Linked DNA regions of Homo sapiens: region 2 is linked to region 1. The links come from fine-mapping of genetic effects on plasma protein levels. A gene starts in region 1. The other region holds a variant in brackets. All regions are shown on one strand. Distances are between the middles of the regions.

Evidence for each region. A credible set is the group of variants that fine-mapping cannot tell apart. PIP is the chance, under the fine-mapping model, that this variant and not a neighbour inherited with it causes the effect. Sun 2018 read protein levels with aptamers (SomaScan).
Region 2: its variant is the best candidate, but not a certain one, in a credible set for the plasma level of the NEO1 protein (Sun 2018, PIP 0.68).

What each region holds. Positions count from the first base shown.
Region 1 is chr15:73,051,208-73,054,109 of GRCh38, forward strand. NEO1 (neogenin 1) reads left to right here and starts at 1,256. Exons shown (of 29, transcript NM_002499.4): 1 at 1,256-1,598. The coding sequence starts at 1,469. RefSeq lists silencers at 376-425, 486-555, 646-965, 1,196-1,575.
Region 2 is chr15:73,020,366-73,023,267 of GRCh38, forward strand. No RefSeq gene overlaps it. Among named protein-coding and RNA genes, the nearest start is that of NEO1, 31 kb to the right of the region's middle. The variant C/CA (reference allele first, on the strand shown) is at 1,385.

The DNA of each region.
Region 1 (2,902 bases):
AGAGTGAATAAAACCCAACGCCTATCAACCACCAAACGTGACTCTGCTTGCATAATCATACAAATAAATTTTCTTTAAAAATTTTTCATGGGTGCAGTATATAAAATGATCAATAGTCTCATCAGCAGTGGAACTACAAACTGCTTTCTCCTAACTTTGTGTAGCCTGGGTGCTGCCTCACGATTACTAAGTGGTTTAAAATCATATCCCACTTGCTCCTTGGTTTATCAGCGAAAGACGTGATTCCCAGGTAGGAAAACGCCAAGTGTCCCGCAAAGGTACAGGTAAAACGTAGCAGTTACTGCGAGAAGACTGGCCCCGGGGAGTCCCAGGGCTCGGTCGGGGCCCCCGCACGAGCTGAGGAAGTGGACAGCGGGCACCTTTGTCTGTGCCTAGTTCCCTGGACCCGGGCCGAGCGATGCGGGTGGGGGCGCGGTTCGGGCGGGTCCCGGCGCTGCCCGGGGGAAGCGCGCGGCGACGGCGGCCCGGCTTGGGAGCCGGAGGTCAGCGGCTGCGCGGCCGGCCCCCTCCCACGGGAGCCGCGCCAGGGCCCAGCAAGAGTCGGGCGGGATCGCTATTGTTTTTGGCGAGCACATAAATCCCCGGGCCGACCCACTGCGCACCCAGGTTTCCTCCCGGAGGCCTTTCGGTTTCCTCTGAGGCCCTATATAGAGGCTCCAGGCCCGGACTGTGCAGAGGTGCGCGCCCACGCCGGCCTCCCGGACCAGCCTGAGCTCGGAGCGCCTCTCGCCCTCAGGTCTCTGCAGCCAGAGGCATCTGGGGAGGTGAGGGGGGAATTTGTCCCCGAGGCGAGGAGGAGGAGGCGGGGGCGCGCGGAGCCGAGGGGCTGCGGCGAGCGGGCGGGAGGAGCAGGAGGATCCGCTTCTCCGGGGTTTCCCTGACGCCAGCAGCAGCGCCCGGCGCGCGCGCCCCGCACCCGTCAGCGGCTCCGGGGAGAAGGGGGAGGGGAGCGGGCCCGCCACGGCCCGAGAGGCGGCAGCCGGGATTGGAGCGGGGGCGGGCCGCGCGCGGAGCCGAGGGGGTGCGGGCGAGGCGCGCGCGTGCGCGTGTGCGCGCCCGGGACTCCCGCCCCCCGCCCCCGCCCCCGCCCCCGCCGTCCGCGGTCTCCGCCCCCCTCGCGCTGGTGTGTGGAGCCGGAGTCGGCGGCGGGTGGCGGCGCCTGGAACCTGGAGACCGACCCACCGCCCCCCCCCCCCCGCCCCGGAATGTACTGACTCCCCTTCTTCGCTCTCCTCCCCTCCCCGCCCCCTTGCAGGAGGGAGGCGCCCTGGAGTCTCCCCTCCAGCGAGAGGGGCTGCGCGGGCCGGGCCGGGCCGGGCTGGGCTGGAGCAGCGGCGGCCGCGGGAGCCGAGCTTGCAGCGAGGGACCGGCTGAGGCGCGCGGGAGGGAAGGAGGCAAGGGCTCCGCGGCGCTGTCGCCGCCGCTGCCGCTCACTCTCGGGGAAGAGATGGCGGCGGAGCGGGGAGCCCGGCGACTCCTCAGCACCCCCTCCTTCTGGCTCTACTGCCTGCTGCTGCTCGGGCGCCGGGCGCCGGGCGCCGCGGCCGCCAGGAGCGGCTCCGCGCCGCAGTCCCCAGGTAAGCGGCGGGCGCGGGCCCGGGGGTTCGCGGGGGCGCGGCACCGGCTCAGGCGGCCGCGGCTGCGGTGTTTTTGTTTAGGATCCAGGAGGAAACGTGCAGGAACTTCTCTGCCTCGGCTCCGGTTGCCGAAGAGAAAGGGGATCGCGCGTGGTGGGGAGGAGAAGGGCGAGAGGGGGCGCCACCGGGGAAGGGGCGGCTGCCGGGGGGCAGGTCGGGGGCGCAGGGGTCTAGTTCCCAGCTTTGTACCTGGAGGCAGGTTCACCCCTCGCCTCTCTCCCCTCCCCCAGGCTCATCCCACTTGTAAGAGTGGGACATTCTTGTGCTCACACTAGCACCAGTAGAGGCCACTACACACCTCATTAAATAAACAATCAGACGGCCAATTCATTAATTTTCAGGAAAGGAAAGGGGAGGGGGCTTGAGCTCCTGGTTCCCTGGCCAGGGATTTCCCAGCTTCCGAAGTCTCGAGGAAGAGCTGGCTAGTCTCGAGGGACTCCTCGCGCGGGGATTGGAGCCCGAGTCTGCGGAAGAGCGGGGGTGTCAGAGGGGCACAATTGCCCGCTCACAACCCCTGGTGTTGATTTAACGATGAGGACGCCTTGGAGAGCGGCTCGGAGTGATCGTATCTGTTAGTGTTTCCGTTATGAAATGCCTCTTCTTTCCTGGGGATTACAACTATATTTACAGCCTATTAACCACTCTTAACCAAGGGAATTGTCTAAGCATCAGATTTTAGGTACTTGTACAATGTTTTCAGATGGCATTGTATAAACATTGAACCTCAAAAGCCATTTTCAGTTCTTTTTTGGAATATTATAGATTACTGAAACCACCTGCATTCCTATTAAGGGGACCAACGAACAAAAATGCCAAGCCTTCCGGGAAGGACCTTACGGTATTGTTGAGCAGGATACACTCAGCAGTTGAAAGGCAAATTAGCATGTAATCTGTTAAAATTATTTGACCAAGGTGGTGTACCATAAAACTTGACAAAACTTTCACTCGTGTGAGATATGATATTTTTACATTTGAAAGCAGTCTTACCGCTGAACCAGTACTTGTTTTTCCCTGATTTATATGAAATAATATTTAAAATCACACTGCAAGGTAACTTGACTGATAAACTTTTCATTTCCTTGCAGAGTGTGTATGTAGCTCATGGCTTTTGCCAATGTTAAAGAACAGCTTTAAACGTAAAGTACCACTCGGTATTCTCTAAACAGCTACGTAAACAATAGTGTTTTAATGTCAAATTAAACATCACTTATGTCATGATGTACCCTTATACATTCAGTCCGTAT
Region 2 (2,902 bases), 31 kb before region 1:
TTTATCACTGAGCCAAATTTTCTGACCCACAGTTCAAAGACGTACCTCCATCTCCAGCTAAGGCAGACTGTGCAGAATTTTTGAGTCGGTGGAAAGATTTTGCTTCTCTTCCCTCCATCCTTCAGGACCATAATCAAATGTTAAAGCCCTAACCCTCCATGTGACTATATTAAAGATGGAGACTTTGCAGAGGTGGTGCAGAGGTGGTTCAGGTTAAGCCCTCTCTCCACCATGTAAAGACACAGAGAGAAGGCAACTGTCTACAGGCCAGGAAGAGAGGCCGCACCAGAAACAGACCCGGCTGGACCTTGATCTGGGACTTTTAGACTCCACAACTGTGAGAAATACATTTCCATTGTTTAAGCCAGTCTATGGTCATTTGTTATGGTGACCCAAGCAGACCAAGACAGCTTTTCTCCCTTCTGCTTTTCCTTTTATCACAAGAAGGGAAGAATATTACAGGCAAAATTCTGAACAAAGCTGTCATCAACAAAGAGCCTCCATCAATTTTAATCCCAAAGTGGCTGCTGTGTAAGCAACAAGGAGAGTGATAGGGCAGGAGAGAGAAAGAGATACATCACCTTTCCTAGGTGACACTCAACTCCCTGTCACAAAGGCAAAGCTCAGCTGGTCAGAACTTAAAATTACCAATGACGATGATGATGGAAAAAATTGGTGTTTAGAGTTTCTTTCCCCTTTTTAAGACACTACTAATGGAACGACCTGGAGTTTCTTCTTGAGTCCTTTAAATGCATCTGGAAGTGAACTCACAAAATTTCCCCATGCTTTTCCCCACTGTAGAGGTCTCTCAAGGCTCTTGTTGGGAATCGCATGAGGTAATGGATGCAAAAGTGTTTTGTAAAATACAAAGCATTCCATGCATGCCAGCTATTATTGGAAGGAAGCAGAAGGATGAATTTAAATCCCAAGATCCCCTGAAAAATGTGTGAAAGGTGCCCCCATTTGGATTGTCATCTTTACCGTACATTTACAGACCATTTAGCAATTTCTCCAAGTGCTTACTCCCGTTCCCTCGGTGACATCCTTGCCCTGTGCTGGGGAGGGCAGAGAAAGGCTGACTCTCCCAAGCCTGGCCCAGTGGACAGCAGCAGGGCCTGCGGAGGAAGGGGCTTGGTTGCTAGGAGACCAGCAAAAGTGGGCAGCCAGTTCCCAAGCAGGTTAGAATCCGGCGAGGAAGGATTTTAAAAGCCTATTTCCGTCTGCTTCTGCTAGAATTGAAATTCTCTTCAGGGTCCAGCCACCAGTGATACAATCTGCTTACATTACTGGTATTGAGAGGCCCTTGAAAGGGATCTATCTGGCCATTTCTTGTGTCTCCCTCCCACAGTGCCTAGAAAAGGCAGGCACTTAAAACAAAATGAAA[C/CA]AAAAAAAAAAAAAAAAAAGAGGAGTTGATGGAGTCTGTAGCAGAAGCAGAGAAGTGACAGCAAGAATTAACCCAAGCACATCTGATCATGACCCTTAGACCCCCAAAGAGGAAATAATTGTGCTCAATCTATGTTAAATTACAGTGCACCTTCCATAGCTTCTGAGTACATCAAGGCAGGTGGCTGGATAGAACTGAAAGTATTTTTTCAAGCCCTCAAGAGGTGTGTCAAGCGGGTCTTTTCCTCTGGAGTTTATCTTCACAGACGCAACCTGACATGTGCTTCTGGGCTAATTGGATGAGGTCGACACTGCATTTAAGTTTTCCCTTTGAGGATTATGAAAATGTGATTTTCAAATAAGAATTATTTGTTTGGTTTTGTTTTCCCAAAGCATGCAGTACACCCAAGAAATCAAATGCTTTTTCGAACCCCCTGAGCCCTCAGCAAGATATACTGACACTTACAACTGCCTAGAACACAGTATTGAACTCAGGAGGAATCAGCTGGAAAAACAGTGGAATAATAGGTGCATTTAGAGTCATTTATGGGCTGAGGCTTGACAGTCTTCATGCCTTGTTACTGCTGCAGCATTGAGAGCAAAGCGGCGGTGCTGATTCATCAGGAAGAAAGAAGCTCGCAGGTCATAGGAAAATAAACTATCTCGGAAGAGGCTCCAGTGTCCTCAGCAGACATGCTTTATTTGGTTAAAGCATAATGTGTAATGGCAAAATGGAAGAACAATTTCAGTATTTACAGGGAAACCCTGGCTTCTAGCCTGCTTTTATAGGCAGTTGGAGGTGGGGGTGGGGGGACTCCAAGGGGATGCAGTAATTGGTTGAGAAAAGAACAATTCAGGAAAATAGAGGACACACATAGGCTAGTGCCTGTCTCATGAAGATGAAGATGAAGGCAGACCTGAAAACACAGAAAAATGTGTCTTGAGAAAAACTAAAACCCCTTCATTGGCAAATGGTAGGGCGTGTGAGGACCACAATGGTGAGCTGATGCAGGGAATTGCAGCAAGGTGGGGAGATGAAAGACCATGATCCTGTGCATGCAAATGAGAAATAACTGAATGTCACATATGCCTCTGCATCTAATTCACTGAGTGAAATGGGCAAGCTCTAAAGCTGTTTCCCCCTAATAAGTGCTTTGCACATGGTGACTATTTTGGTGAGTGGAACGATCGTGAACTTTGGGGTCACACAGACCTGGGTTTAAATCCTGGCTCTGCCAGGGACCTTGGGCAGTGTCGGAGAAGACATTTAATTTTCTGAGTCTCCGTTTTCTCATCTGTAACACAAGGTGGTAATGATGCCTGTGATGGCTTCCTCCAGTGCAGAAGTTCTGTGAAACAGCCCAGCCCCACCTGCCTTCTTACCCTCTGTGTTCCCACTCTAGATTCAGATACCTGGGAGTGAGGGTGGTCTGAGTGGGGACTGTGATTGAAGGGGTAGGGCCCCATTATTCATAGCTTTTCCTGGAATCACAGATTGTGAGGAAGTGGCATTTCTCCA